2 separate regions of the Homo sapiens genome follow, and region 2 is linked to region 1. A link means that fine-mapping ties the variant in region 1 to the expression of a gene that starts in the linked region. Tissue or cell type: whole blood. Region 1 holds a variant in brackets; the other region holds the start of a gene. All regions are shown on one strand. Distances are between the middles of the regions.

What was found. PIP is the estimated chance that this variant, and not a neighbour inherited with it, causes the effect.
Region 2: VAMP3 starts here. The variant in region 1 is fine-mapped to the expression of VAMP3 in whole blood (TOPMed, PIP above 0.99).

The regions. Positions count from the first base shown.
Region 1 is chr1:7,924,835-7,932,834 of GRCh38, reverse strand. The region is part of intron 7 of TNFRSF9 (TNF receptor superfamily member 9); the gene reads left to right. It also overlaps the pseudogene TRUND-NNN4-1. Among named protein-coding and RNA genes, the nearest start is that of TNFRSF9, 12 kb to the left of the region's middle. The variant G/A (reference allele first, on the strand shown) is at 3,329.
Region 2 is chr1:7,767,965-7,776,093 of GRCh38, reverse strand. VAMP3 (vesicle associated membrane protein 3) reads right to left here and starts at 4,798. Exons shown (of 5, transcript NM_004781.4): 1 at 4,709-4,798; 2 at 2,583-2,652. The coding sequence starts at 4,710. It overlaps CAMTA1 (calmodulin binding transcription activator 1), which reads right to left. Exons shown (of 23, transcript NM_015215.4): 23 at 6,388-8,129. RefSeq lists silencers at 4,435-4,664, 4,629-4,871 and enhancers at 5,105-5,154, 4,898-5,594.

The DNA of each region.
Region 1 (8,000 bases):
TGCATATAGAAGAGCACACCTCGGTTCTAGAAAAATGACAGATTTAAATATGCTGCAGCCTTGGATTATTGCATGTATGTGTATGTGTGTGTGTGTGTGTATGTGTGTGTGTGCGTGTCTGTGTGTGTGTGCGTGTGTGTGTGCGCGTGCGTGCGTGTGTGTATGTGTGTGTGTGCGTGTGGAGGACACTGGCAAAGAAGAATCAGAAAACCATGTTCCCTCTATGTCCCTCTGGTTGATAAACTGGCTTAAAATGAGTTTAGACCCATATTTGAGGAAGGCAAGGAGAACAAAGAGGGAGCTTGAAGGGGGTTTAACAAATGAATTATTACAGCACCAGTATGGATTACATGAAAAATTTCAATAATGAATTTCATTCATTCACTTGTTCAACAATTATTTCTGTAAGGTACTCAGCAAGTGCCTGGCACTGAGTCAGCATCCACTAGACAAAAGCCATTGATATTTATTTGAAAAAGTATATAGATGGAAGGCAATCTGTTTTTTGTCTTCATGGACATTAGGATGAGACATAACAGGCTTAATAAGACTTAATAAGAGGGATATAATAAAAGGAGCTTTTTGAGAGCAAAATTTTAACCCAAAGCACCATGTAAGACCAGAATGTGCCTATTTGGAGATTGTTAAAAATATATATGCAGGAACAGCATTAGTAAAGTCTTTTTTTTTCTTTTTTGAGACAGAGTTTCACTCTTGTTGCCCAGGCTGGAGTGCAATGGCGTGATCCCGGCTTACCGCAACCTCCTCCTTCCGGGTTCAAGCGATTCTCCTGCCTCAGGCTCCCGAGGCATTACAGGCATGCGCCACCACACCCAGCTAATTTTGCATTTTTAGTAGAGACGGGGTTTCTCCATGTTGGCCAGGCTGGTCTTGAACTCCCAACCTCAGGTGATCCGCCCGCCTCAGCCTCCCAAAGTGTTGGGATTACAGGCGTGAGCCACTGCGCTCAGCCAGTAAAGTCTTATCTAATAAATTATGCTAATGTATTTAAAGGCTCTTTTTAAAGCAATATAGAACTTTTATACATTGTGACCTATACAGAAAAATGCATAAATGTAAAGTTTAACAAATTGTTGTAAACAAACATTCAAATAACTCTACCAGGGTAAAGAAGTGGAACATAACTCATTCCCGAAGCCCTTGGCATGCCCTTTCTAGATCACAGCCCTCTTTGCCCACTACTGCTAACCACATCTAGACTTGTATGGTATTAACTTCCTTTTGCTGTAGTTTTGCTACCTAATAACACAGTTTTATTGGGCTGCTTGTGAACTTCATACAAATAGAATCACACTGTTTTCTGTATCTTGCTTCTTCTTTCAACGTTGTATCATGAAGATTCATCCATGTTGAGTTCATCTTTAGTTGATTTCCACTGTTGCACACTCTTGTTGAATGATGACATCATTGTTCACCTATTCTAGTACTGATGGACAGCGGGATCATTTCCAGCTTGGGGTTATTACATGTAATGACGTTTGAATATTTTTGTCCGTGTATCTCAGCACACGTAAACACGTGTTTCTGGCTTGGTTTTGTTTTTTAACCTAGAAATAACGTTGCTGAGCTACAAGGAACATGTGTATCTTGGTCGTGAATATGCCAAACTGTTTTCCTAAATGATTGGACCCCATTTACACTCCCCTGGCGGTAATGAGTTTCCTGTTACTCCACATCCCCTGATAACTCTTGGTATCATCAGATTATTTTTATCGATATGGTGGGTGGATAGTTGTATCTCATTGTGGTTTTAACTTACACTTCCTGGTTGCTAGTGAGGTTAGACGCCTTTTCATGTTATTTTGGCTATTTGGATTTCCTCTTTAGTGAAGGGCCTGATCAAGTCTTTTGAGTATTTTCTCATAGGATTGTCTGTCCTTTTCTTACTAACGTATAGGAAGTTTTTAGTCTGCTGTTCATGAGCTGCAAATATCTTTTCCTATTCTGTGGTTTGCTCTTTCATTCTTTTTTTGAGGTCTACACCTCCAGTTTAAACCTCTGCGTTCTCACTTAAACCTGATTTCAGTTTTGTCTTTTGTTTTTTTGAGACAGAGTTTCACTGTGTCACCCAGGCTGAAGTGCAATGGTGCGATCACAGCTCACTGTAGCCTCGAACTCCAGAGCTCGAGCAATCCTCCTGCCTCAGCCTACTAAATAGCTGGGACTATAGGTGCATACCACCACACTCAGCTAATTTTTAATTGATTTTTAGTGTTTTTGTAGAGACTGGGATTCACGGTGTTGTCCAGGCCAGTCTTAAACTCCTGGGCTCAAGCGATCCTCCCACCTCGGTTTCCCAAAGTGCTGGACTTAATCCTGATTTAAAGGAGTATCTCTGCAACAAAGTTCCATCCACACCCCAGACTGCAACAAAGTTCGTTATAAAATGCTTTTCAAAAGTATTTATGAGTAATTAGTGAGTTTCAATGGAACTGTAATCCATTTTTTAAAAGTTTTTAGGACACTCCCTGGTAGTCTAGTGGTTAGGATTCCGCGCTCGCCATCACGACCCGGGTTCGATTCCTGGTCAGGGAAGCCTTCCTTCTGGCTGGGCGCTGTGGCTCACGCCTGTAATCCTAGCATTCTGGGGGGCTGAGGCGGGCAGATCACCTGAGGTTAGGAGTTCAACACCAGCCTGGCCATGGTGAAACCCCGTCTCTACTAAAAATACAAAAAATTAGCCAGGCGTGGTGGTGCATGCCTGTAATCCCAGCTACTCAGGAGGCTGAGACAGGAGAATCGCTTGAACCCGGGAGGTGGAGGTTGCAGTGAACTGAGATCGTGCCATTGCACTCCAGCCTGGGCAACAAAAGCGAAACTCCGTCTCAAAAAAAAAAAAAAAAAAAGGTTTTAGGTCGTTCAAAAGAACTTTCAATTTTGACGTAATTATAGATTCACAGGAATTTGCCAAGACAGGAACATCTCTCATGCGGTTTCTGGGTTCCATTCTCCAGTACAATGGCAAAGCAGGAAATTGACATTGGCACAGTGTGCGTGTGTAGTTGTTTGTCCCTTTATCACACATGTGGAGTTGTATAACAACCAGCACAATAAAATCAGAACTATCCATCACCACAGAGATCTCCTTCCACTATTCCTTTCTAGTTAGGTCCTCTACCTCTCCCCACCATCCCCTGGCAACCACTTATCTGTCTTTCATCTCTATACTTTTGTTATTTAAGGAATATGGTATAAATAGAATCATATGGTATGTGTCAAGCTAAATCATAGATAGAGAGAGCCTCTCTAAAAGATTATATTTTTTCAGGAGTAGCATTGCAGTGGGAATACGGTGGGTGTATTCAGG[G/A]ATGTAAAGGTGATGCGAGTTTTTAAAAGAAAAAATGAGGGGCGGGGCACAGTGGCTCATGCCTATAATCCCAGCGCTTTGGGAGGCTGAGGCGGATGGATCACCTGAGGTCAGGAGTTCGAGACCAGCCTGGCCAACATGGTGAAACCCCATCTCTACTAAAAATACAAAAAGTTAGCCCTGCATGGTGGCACGTGCCTGTAATCCCAGATACTTGGGAGGCTGAGGCACAAGAATTACTTGAACCTGGGAGGCGGAGGTTGCAGTGAGCTGATATCGCATCCTGCACTTCACTCCAGCCTGGGCGACAGAGCAAGACTCTGTCTCAAAAAAAAAAAAAAAAAAAAAGGAAAAAGAAAAAAAAGAAAAACTGAGGAGGGTTATGTAAGTTATTTTGAAACAATTATCCTTTGCTACAAAGATCAATACCGGCAGAAGTATTTTTTTGTTAAGATACAGTAGCCTTGGTGCAAGGTTGTGGTTTCTGCCATCTTTTGTGATAGTTGTTTTTATCAGGCATGCATGCATAAGAAACCCCCTTCACGGCCTTCCCTGGCTCCATTTGTCAGGGTTTTTGTTTGTTTGTTTGTTTTTTGGTTTTTTGTTGTTATTGTTGTTGTTTGTTTTTGAGACAGGATCTCCCTGTGTCATTCAGGCTGGAGTGCAGTGGCGTGATCTCCACTCGCTGCAACCTCCGCCTCCTGGGTTCCAGCGATTTTCGTGCCTCAGCCTCCTGAGTAGCTGGGATTACAGGCAGCTGCCACCATGCCCGGCTATAGTAGAGACGGGGTTTTGCCACGTTGGCCAGGCTGGTCTTGAACTCCTGGCCTCATGTGATCTGCCTGCCTCAGTCTCCCAAAGTGCTGGGATTACAGGCATGAGCCACCATGCCCGGCCCATTTGTCAGGGTTTTGACACAAGTTACTCCATTTTGATTCTGACAACTTTCACAAACGTGAACTTTTTTTAAGATTTTGCTTTTTCACTCAGCACAATGCCCTTGATATCCATCCAAGTTGCTGTGTGTTTCAATGGTTAATTCTTTTTCCTTGCTGAATAGTATTCCACGATATGCTTGTGCCACAGTTTGTTTTACCATGCACCCATTAAAAGATATTTTGTTTGCTTCCTGTTTTGACTATTACATATAAAGCTGCGAGGAATAATTATGTACAGGTTTTGTGTGGACATGTATTTTTGTATCTCTATGATAAATGCTCAGGAGTGCAATTGCTGGGCTATATGTTTGGTGCTTGTTTAGTTTTTAAGAAGTTGTCGAACTATTTTCCAGAGGAAGTGTATCATTTTACATTCTCATCGGAGTTTCTCTGCATCCTTGCTTGCATTTTGCATTGCCACAATTTTTATTTCAGCTGTTCTAATAGGTATGTAGTGACATCTCATTGGGGCTTTAATTTGCACTTCCCTTATGGGTGGACATCTTTTCATGTGCTTATTTTCCATCTTTATATCTTCTTCAGTGAAGTGTTGTTCAGGTCTTTCACCTATTTTCTAGTTGGATTATTTGTTTGTTTTACTGTTGAGATTCAAGAGTTCTTCGTATTTCCCAGATAGGAGTCCTTTGGCATATATATGGTTTATAAATATTTTCTCCCAGTCAGTAGCTTGCCTTTTCATCCTCTTCTCAGGCTCTTCCACAGAGAAAAGCTATTTAATTTTGCTGAAGTCCAGTTTATGGATTTTTTCATTTATGGAGTCATGTCTAAGAATTCTTCACTGAGTCCTGGGTCTCAAAGATTTAGGGTTTTTTTTTTTCCTCTATCTCTTATAACTTTTACAGTTTTCTATTTCATATTTAAATCTTGATTTTTTTTTTCTGAGACAGGGTCTCTGCTTTGTCACCCAGGCTGGAGTGCAGTGGTGTGATCATGGCTTACTGCAGCCTCCACCTCCTGGGCTCAAGTGATCCTCCCTCCTTGGCCTCCCAAGTAGCTGGGACTACAGGAGTGTGCCAGCACTTGCTGTGGACCTATTGGACTGAACAAAGGGGGGCAAAAGCGGGAATAAAAGACGAGACAAAAGAGTATATTTGGAAGAAGGGGTCAGGGGGCACCTTGCCTCTAGTGGACAAGGGCCCTGAGCTTTACACAGCCCTCCGTATTTATTAGGCAAAAGAGATAGTGAGAAAGCGGGGATGATTGTCGGGTAATTGTCAGTTAGCCGTTTGGTGTTTGGTTCACAGCAGGCTTGTGAGACTGCATCCTTTGAACAATAGGTGCTAGATTTCTCAATAGATAACTTCAAGGAGCCAGGGAGTAGCGTCCCTCAGCAAACTTTTTGGTGGCAGGGCAGTGTGAGTTTGCTCACATCTTGCATTCGTGATGAACACTTTGCTGTTTGATCATATAGCCTCCAGTGGAATGTTGAGTTGGTCACGTCTCACGGGCTTTGGCTCTCTGCATGCCTGGGTAATTTTTTTTTTTATTTTGAGACAGAGTCTCACCATGTTGCTCAGGCTGGTCTTGAACTCCTGGCCTTAAACAATCCTCCTGCCTTGGCCTCCCAAAGTGCTGGGATTACAGGTGTGAGCCACTGTGCCCATGCTTGATTCGTTTTAAATTTTTCGTATAAGGTGTGAGAGGTTTTAGCCAAGTTTTTTGTTGTTGTTTTTGTTGTTGGACTATGGACGTCCAATTGCTCTAGCACCACTAGTGGAAAACATTAGTCATCCTTCATTGTACCTTTGTCAAAGTCAGTTGGCTGCAATTACGTGGGGCTATCTGGTTTCCCTCTTCTGTTCCATTGATCCATGTGTTTCTTCTTCTGCCAATACCACACAGCCTTGATTACTGTAGTTATACATAAATACTGAAATTGGGTAGAGGGTGGTAGTCTCTCCCACTTTATTATTTCATTTCAAAATTGTTTTATCTATTCTAGTTCCTTTGCATTTCCACATACATTTTAGGATAATATCTATATCTACAAAAAGCCGGCTGGGATTCTGATAACAATTGTGTTAAATCTGCATATCAGTTTCGGGCAAATTGACATCTTTACTATGTGAAGTACAGTCACATATCACTTAATGACAGGGGTAGTTCTGAGAAATGTGTTGTTAAGTGATTTCGTTGTTGTGTGAACATCATAGAGGGCACTTATGCAAACCTAGATGGTACAGCCTACTATACACCTAGGCTGGATGGTATAGCCTATCCCTCCTATACTACAAACCTGTCAGGCATGTGACTGTACCGAATACCATAGGCAACTGTAACATAATGGTATTTGTGTAGCTAAACATATCTAAACATAGAAGAGGTACCGTGAAAATAATATGATCTTTGCCAGGCGCAGTGGCTCATGTCTGTAATCCCAACACTTTGGGAGACCAAGGTGGGCAGATCACCTGAGGTCAGGAGTTCGAGACTAGCCTGGCCAACATGGTGAAACCCTGTTTCTACTAAAAATACAAAAATTAGCCGGGTGTGGTGGCGCATGCCTGTAATTCCAGCCACTTGGGAGGCTGAGGTGGGAGAATCCCTTGAACCTGACAGGCAGAGGTTGCAGTGAGCCGAGATCGCATCACTGCACTCCTGGCTGGGCAACAGAGTGAGACGCCATTAGAAACCAGGCCACCCAGCAGGAGGAGAGTGGTGGGCAAGCACGTGAAGCTTCCTCTGTATTTATAGCCCCTCCCCATGACTTGCATTACCGCCTTATCTCCATCTCCCATCAGATCAGCAGCGGCATTAGATTCTCATAGGAGCATGAATCCTATTGTGAACTGCGCATACGAGGGATCGAGGTTGCACGCTCCTTATGAGAATCCAGTACCTGATGATCTGTCACTGTTCCCCATCACCCCCAGATGGGACTGTCTAGTTGTAGGAAAACAAGCTCAGGGCTCCCACTGATTCTACATTACAGGGAGTTGTATAATTATTTCATTATATATTACAAAGTAATAATAATAGAAATAAAGTGCACAATAAATGTAATGTGCTTGAATCATCCTGAAACCATCCCCCCACCCACCCAGTCCGTGGAAAAATTGTCTTCCACAAAACTGGTCCCTCTTGCCAAAAAGGTTGGGGACCTCTGCTGTATATCACTGTAGTCTTATAAACACTGTACACTTAAGCTAACCTAAATTTATTTAAAATGTTCTCTTTCTTCAATAATAAATTAACCTTAGCTTACTGTGACTTTTTACTTCATAAACTTTAATTTTTTTTTTTTTGAGGCAGGGTCTTGCTGCCCAGGCTGGAATGCAGTGGCGAGATCTTGGCTCACTGCAGCCTGCACCTCCCAGGTTCAAGTGATTCTCCTGCCTCAGCCCCCCAAGTAGCTGGGACTACAGGCAGCTGCCACCACGCCTGGCTAATTTTTGTATTAGAGATGGGGTTTCACCATGTTGGCTAGGCTGGTCTCGAACTCCTGAGCTCCGGTAATCTGCCCACCTCGGCCTCCCAAAGTGCTGGGATTACAGGCATGAGCCACCGCACCCAGCCTATAAACTTAAAAAAAATTTTTTTTAACTTTTTGACTCTTTTGTAATAACTCTTAGCTTAAAACACAAGCACATTGTACAGCTGTACAAAAATATTTTCTCTTTATTTCCTTATTCTATAAGCTTTTATCTATTTAAAAGTTTTTAAATTGCTTTTTACTTTTTAAACTTTTTTTGTGAAAAACTAAGACACGAACA
Region 2 (8,129 bases), 160 kb after region 1:
AATTTCAAAACTTACTACAAAGCTACAGTAATCAAAACAGTGTGATACTGGCATAAGGACAAACATATAGACTGATGGAATAGAACTGAGAGTCTAGAAGTCAACCTAAGCATCTATGGCCAATTGATTTTTGACAAGAGTGCGAAGGCCATCCAACAGTCTTTTCAATAAACAGTGCTGGGCCAATTGAAGAGCCAACATGCAAAAGAATGAAGTTGAATCCCCACCTCACCCTATATACAAAAAGTAACTCAAAATGGATCAATAATCTAAGTGTAAGAGCTAAAGCCATAAAACTCTTAGAAGAAAACATAAGGGTAAATCTTCATTACTTTGGATTTGACTGTGGATTCTTATATACCAAAATCAAGAACAACAAAAGGAAAAACAGATACATTGGACTTCATAAAAATTAAAAACTTTTGTGCATCAAAGAACATTATCAGGCCAGGTGCGGTGGCTCATGCCTATATTCCCAGCACTTTGGGAGGCCCAGGCAGGTGGATCACCTGAGATCAGGAGTTTGAGACCAGCCTGACCAAAATGGTGAACCACTGTCTCTACTAAAAATACAAAAAATTAGCCGGGCAAGGTGGCGGGCGCCTGTAATCCCAGCTACTCTGGGGGCTGAGGCAGGAGAATCACTTGAACCTGGGGCTTGGAGGCTGCAGTGAGCTGAGATTGCACCACTGCACTCCAGCCTCGGCAACAGAGCAAAACTCCGTCTCAAAAAAAATAAATAAAAATAAAAAAAATAAAAAAAATGTAAAAGACAAGCCACAGAATGGGAGAAAGTATTTGCAAATCACATGTCTGATAAAGAAAGATTTAATATCCAGAATACATAAAAAACTCTCACAACTCAAACAACCCAATTAAAAAATGGGCAAAGCCTGAACAGACATTTCTTCAAAGACATACAAATGGCCAATAAGCACATGAAAAGATGCTTAACATCACTAATCATTAGAGAAACGCAAATGAAAACCCAAAGAGCTCAGTAGGATGGTTATAATCAAAATGGAAAACAAGTGTTGGCAAGGATGTGGAGAAACAGGAACTCTTGGACATTGCTGGTGGGAAAATAAAATGGTGCAGCTATTGTGGAAAACAATTTGGCAGTTCCTCGTAAAATTAAACATACAGCTACTATGACCTAGCAATGCTACTCCTAGGTATACATTCAAGAGAAATGAAAGCCTATGTCTAAACAAAATCTTTCCTGTGAATATTTATAACAGCATTATTCATAATTGCTGAAAGGTGGAAACAACTCGAAGACTCATTAACAAATGGATGGCTCAACAAATTGTGTATACACATACAATGGAATATTACTCAACCGTAAAAAGGAACACGGTACAACACGTTACAACTTGAATGAATGCAAAAAACTTTGTGCTAAGTGAAAGAAGGCAGATGCAAAAGGCCACACATTGTATGATTCCTTTTATATGACATACCCAGAACAGGCAAATCCACAGAAAGAGAGAGCTGATTAGAGGTAACCAGAGAATGGGAGGAAGGGGAAATAGTGAATGATTACTAAATGGGCATGAGGTGTTCTGGGGTGATGAAAAAGTTCTGAAAATGGAAAGAGGTAATGGTTGCAAAATATTATCAATATACTAAATAACACTCAATTATATACAGTTTAAAATGTTTAGTTGTATGTTATGGTAATTTTGCCTCAATAAAAAAACAACTCTCCTTAAAATTCCTTTGGCTAAAAAAAAAAATCCAATTTGATTTTGTAAGTAAACAGAATTTCCAGGCAGGACAGAATTACAATGGGTTTCTTACTGTGAAAATCTAAAATTGTATAAGTTCATGAACAAAACCATCAGATCAAAACATTACTATATTATTTAACAACAGTATCTGACATAACTTTAACTGTTTTTTCAGGGCAGCTAAATGCAGAAAGACCGAAATATATTTGTCGGACAGTGACGGCTTTTAGGAATGTGGAAACACTAGTCTGAATTTCTCAATCTTCTGCTGTGGTTCTCCACATACGGCGCAGAACAAAAGATGGAGGTCCTCTAGCTCAAGAATTCTACAAACAGAGATTTGCTGAGCTAATGGAGTTTGACAGTATCTACTTTGTGTGTGTCAATGGACAACCATTAGAGATGAATTCTACAGAGAGGCTTGCTCAGGCTGGACAATTAGTAAGAAGACAAAGCATTTTGATAAAAAAATCTGATCAGAAGAACTGGTCTTGGCTTGAGCAATCTAAAGACCTAATCCTTAACATTGTATTATCCGATTTTATAAAGTGCTTCTTGGGGAATGCACTCAGGGAGTGATGTTCATGTTTTAGGCATATGATTTTTTATTTCTCCTGAGCTAAATGTTATGAGCAGGTTTCTATCACAGGAAAACAAGCGTGAAACCTAGAAAGTCTGACTTTTGCTTAGATTAGATCTTCCAGCACAGCAGGGAGCAAAGTTTCGTTACAATTATGATACAGTCAGAATTTGCTTTACATTCACACTTTGATGATACTTTTTCTAAACAGATTTCCAGAGTACTCATATTTGTTTAAAATTCATATTTCCAACATTTCAGAGCAATACCTCATCTACTTGATTTTGTGTCTGCTGAAGTCTTCGATTACTGCCAGTGGCAGCAGTTGGACCTGTAGACCTGGAACATGTAAAGGCATGAGCATGAGTACATTACGATTCCAAATACATTTTCTTAAGTATAAAGATGTTACTCCGGGACTCTCACTGTTAACAATCTCTTACATTAGAACTAAAACAGAAAAAGAAATTCTTCCTGAAGCAATGAACGAAAGTTTTAATTGCATTTCTTCTAATTTCTCTATAATTTCCAAGACTGTCCCACCTACTAAAGGGACAAATGTTAAGCTTTAATAGGACCTACTTTGTATCCCTGAAGTATCTGATCCCACGATAGGTAAGCTCTACTGTCCTTTTTTGAAACTTGTTCTAAGGCACACATCTGCTTGAATGTACTCAGTACTTTCCTGATCTTTTCATTGTGGAAGGAACTGTTTTCATAGTTACAAACAGTTACAGAATGCCCTTTTTCCAATATGGAAAAATAGATTAATTTACAGAAACAGAGTCAGGAACACTGGGATGCAGGGAGTGGGTGGTGTGAGTGGAAAGGTGTGTTGAAGAAATGCCTCCTCTTTTAGGAAGGTACTCTTTCTTTTTCCCCCTCTTTTGAGAGACGGAGTTTCGCTCCTGTTGCCCGGGCTGGAGTGCAATGGCGCGATCTCGGCTCACTGTAACCTCCGCTTCCTGGGTCCAAGCAATTCTCTTGCCTCAGTCTCCCAAGCAGCTGGGATTACAGGCATGTGCCACCACGCCCGGCTAATTTTGTATTTTTTAGTAGAGACGGGGTTTCACCATGTTGGTCAAGCTGGTCTCGAACTCCTGACCTCAAGTGATCCGTCCACCTCGGCCTCCCAAAGTGCTGGGATTACAGGCATGAGCCACCGCGCCCGGCCCAGGAAGGTACTCATCTTTTAAAATCTTCATCAAAGGCTTTATTTCTCCCCATGCAGATCTTTCTTAACCACTCTGACTCTGAAGTCATTATTGGCTCCATTACTTGGAAAGTATCACTTTGGTTTTTCAGGTATAAAGTCCCGCCTCCTCGAATAGATCACAGGTTCCTGGGTCTTCTTACTCTCTTCTCTGTATCCTAGATAGCACCTAGCATGTGCCTTGGTATACAACAGTCTGATGGGCTGTTTGAACAGTCACTTTACATCTGTCATGTGTCAATGACCAGGGCTACAACAGATCTCATCACCGTCCTCACGGAGTTTAGTATCTGGTAGATAAGTAAGGACCATGCCGTGGCGCTAGACTCTTTCCATGCTTTTCCTCCTTTAACCCTCATAACTCTCTGAGGGGAATATTACTCCTATTTTACAAATGAGTAAAGTGAGGTTTAGAGAGTCAACACAGCTGGCTGCAGGACAGCTTGTTTTTAGATCAGGTCCTGTGTACCTTGGCTCTAGATCTTAACCACTGTGATCTATTGGCACAGCAGCCTCAGCAGGAACATTCGAGGGGGGTCCCCAGCTCCTGGAAGAAACCCGGGGCTTCCTCCGACGGTGAGCAATGAGCAGAATGGAGGTGGAAGAGGGAGTCCTTGTGATTCTTAACCATTAGCATTCTCTGAGTCTTACCACTGGAAGCAGGGGTTTGCAACGTGCTTTCGCTTAAGAGAGCGAAGGCCCACGGTTAAGTGATCTTTCCAGTGCAGATGCCCCTAGCTAGGCAAGGAGCTCTTCGGCCCACAGGGGCTCAGGACAGGGCCGAGGTCCTTTCTTTCGCAACTTCTGGGGCCCAGCGCAGCACCGGGCCGAGAGCGGGCGCTCCCGAACCAGGGCTGTCGTCCCCATTCCTCTCAGGGACGTCGGGGACTAGAAAGGGAAGGGGCGAGGAGCGGGCTGCGGGCGGGCAGCTCACTTCCTCCGGGAAGCGTCTCGCCGCCCCGCCCTTGCCCCTTCCGCGTCCGCCCGATGGCCGCGGGACCCGCCCGGCCCGTCTGCAGCCCGCGACCCAAGGGCCACCGCCCACCCCCAGGCCTCGGGATCCCCGCGCAGCCCCGGCCTGCGTCCGAGTGGCGGCCGGCGGCAACTGGGCAGTATGGCGGTCCCAGCGCGAGCTGCCGCCTGCGGGGCCCGAAGCCGCCCGCGTCGCGTAGCGTCACTCACATTTTGGCAGCTGCGGCGGCGGCAGCGGCGACGAGAGAGGGTCAGCAGAGAAGCGAAGTTGGGACCGGAGGCCAGGGAGATGGGTGGGACGGCGCGGCGCGGGGCAAAGACGTCACTAGGCGGAGCCGGGGGAGTGGGCGGGGCGAAGAGGGGGCGCGCCGGAAGTGGGCGGGGGCGTCGTGGGTGGGTGCGTCCAGGGCGGGGTCAGAGCGAGACGTCCCCTCCCCGGACGAGGTCACTTGGGAACTTGAGGGCCACAGGGGTCCCAGGGCGGTCCGGGCTCTGAAACGCAGAACGCAGGTCAATACAGCTCCCTGTCCGCACCGCCGTCCGCGCTGGCGCTTGGGGACGTGGTCTGTAAACGTGGTGCATTAGCCACTGGCGAGGGACTGCGTGGATAAGTGAGGGTGGGGGCAATTCATGTTATTCTGGGCTCGGGACCATTTCTAACAGTATTAGAGACAGATGACTGGCTTCTGCTGAGTGTTCCAGAGTAACCTAGTGATCCTGAGGGCACCATGTTTCTCTAAAGTAGTTGAAATAGGAAGTCCATTTCGGGTATTTGTCACATGGTGTTGGGTGAGGTTCCCGCTCATGTTTTCATCGGTGACACAAATATTTGTCACTGCAGATCATATTATAATCTGCTTACGAGAGCCTTGGCATCAAGGCTGTAGTTCCTTTATTTCTGTATTTTCAGGCCCTAGCACAGAATAGGTCCTCAGGTTTTGGTCGAAGGGAGGGAAGCACAAATCTGAACGCAGTGAGTTACCTTGTATATATTTGTTACTGAAATATTCCTACCAACATAGTTACCTACACCAAAAAATAAAACACTAATAGGTCATTGGTGGGTCTCTTAGATGAGAAGTGAAAAATACAGTACTTAAATACTATGCTGTTTTTTCCAACTCTAAATAGAATACTTTGAAAAGGGAAACGTTAGTATATATCGAATAAACGAGTGTCACAAAGGCGGTGGGATTTGAGCTGGGTACTAGTGGAAAAGAACTTTCCAAGTAAGGGTTGGGCAAACACCATGAACAAAGACAGCAGTGAAAATGGACGCAGTGTGCACAGACCACCTAGAGGGTGCAGGTTGGGTACAAGTGAAAAGAAGACTGAATAAAGAGGATAAACAAACAAGAAAAATGTCATTTAATTGTAGTGGGCCCTGGAAACCATTGACTTACGGACGTGGGAGATCCATGATGCAAAATTTCTCTGGCAGTAGTGGCCAGATGGATTAGATGGAAGAGGGAGCACTAGGGAGATAAGGAGAGGCTCTGCAGTGAACGGGAAGGGAGCGGCGATGACACAATACTCAGAAAGGACGACGTTCGTAATCTGCTGGAAAATGCCTTTTAGAAGACTTTAGAGGATTGTAACTGAAAAGGTGAATTAAATTAATGTCTTTATCTTTCAAATAATTGCACTGCCTTACACAAATGATTGACATGTTGAGAGGTGCCTGGAAAGATAGGGGAAAAGCTCTCTGAATGGTGGCTGGAAGACATTTTTTCTTTCATGGACCTAGCTGAAACAATGTAACATTCAATGTCAAAACATTACATCTGGATCAGAAGGAAATCCTTGACATTATTACATATGTTTTGAAACATGTGCCCATCACCTTAGATTTCACTACCCGGTCATATTAAAGCAAAACACACACGTAGTATGGGGAAATTTTCTTCATTTTTAATTTACAGCAGAAAGAATATAAAGCATTCAGAAAACATTTTCCATATTTTAAGGGCAATTCAAAACATTTTGCATGGTTTCCAGCAGCTGAGTTCTTCAACAGATCCATTGATTCAATGATGCTTTACATGCACAATTACAAAAATAAAACTTACAAAAAAAGAAGACATCTAGACTAGTTTTACATGCAAGTCTCAGGGACCCCCCATTGGGCGCCAACTACTGTGTGGAACTGCCATAAGCGACCGTGCAGCCAGAGAGGGGTTCGTATTATTGTCTTTATTTCGTTCACACAGTACAGCTGATTTCGAATGGGTAACAATAGCAATTAAATCTTCAGGAGATAGAATAAGATTAGCTATTAATTTTATAATGAAATCCTACTCCTGGCACTTGGGAATTCAGATTATCCAAGAAAGCTGCGCTTACCTATCATCTTATATTCGAAATTAAGATTCATAACCAAGAAAAAGCGGTCAGAAATGCTTCGTTTCAGTGGAAGTGCATTTTTGCCTCGCCTAGGATTCACAGTTGTACTGGTAGGTTACACTGGTAGGCTTTAAACCTACTTCCTATCCCCTCCATGAGAACCCTCTTAATTCTATGGAAGTCTCTACCATCTGTCATTTTCTAACGTATTCAGCTAATAATGTAACATGTGAAACATTAAAAAAAAAATGTGAGGGTTAAAGCAAATCCACTGAGGTCATTACTCTGGTTAAAACATCAGTTATTTGTACCATAATAAATGGAATAAAGATATCTAAATTCAGTATTAATAGAGGATATTCTGAAAGAGCTGGCTTTCACGTTCTATTCCCATTTATGAATGCAGTTGTGTTTGTAAATTACTCAGTGTCCTCCTATAGGTCAAATTGTGTAAAATAATAGGTATCTGGGGGACTGCAACAGCTGCAACATAACCCACACATTTAAAAACAAAATGGAGTCAGGTCAGTTTACAAATGTACAGGTGGCTACTAGTTGTGGGGCTGTCACTGTTGTCAAAGCTGATCACAAGCAGAAAGACATATACTGTACAGTAATTCGAGGTTGGCAGTGAAAGGAAGTAATTAAAAAACAAGTACAATTATAGAAAAGGCACCAAGAGCACTGACCCCAGTTTTTACCACAATCTTTTTGTATCTACCTTCCTTCCAAAGACACCAGTTTAAAAGCTTATTTGTGAATATTTTTAGGCTTCACAACAAGCCTTGAGTTTTAACTCACAGTTGGCAGCCAGAACCAAGAAAAAACATCTCAGCTTTACACCAACTGATCCTCAGACGTAACCTGGGAATTTTAAACTGGCATCAGCAAATACGAACTTTATTCTCTCAATTTAACATTAGCAGTTTAATTGTTAAAAACATCAGATTTCTTTGGCTCCTCATTATGTGGAAATAGTAATATACCATGCCGTCTCTAAAAGACCAGTCTGCATCTTTTTCATTTTTTTTTTTGTGCAATTTTATTATATTTTCTGATTTCCAGCAGGAGATATGGAAACGTGACATTTTTCTACTTTTCATACTATTTCTTTTGTCAGGTTTTTTTTTTTTTTTTTTATCATTCTAAGTGTTCTTTGTTGGAGTGAGTGGATGGTGTTAAGCTACATACTGATTCATCTTATGATTATCTGTTTTGCAAAAGTAACTTAATTTTCTTAAGCAGTATTAGCATTCACATTACTTGGCACCATTGGCAAAAAAATTTT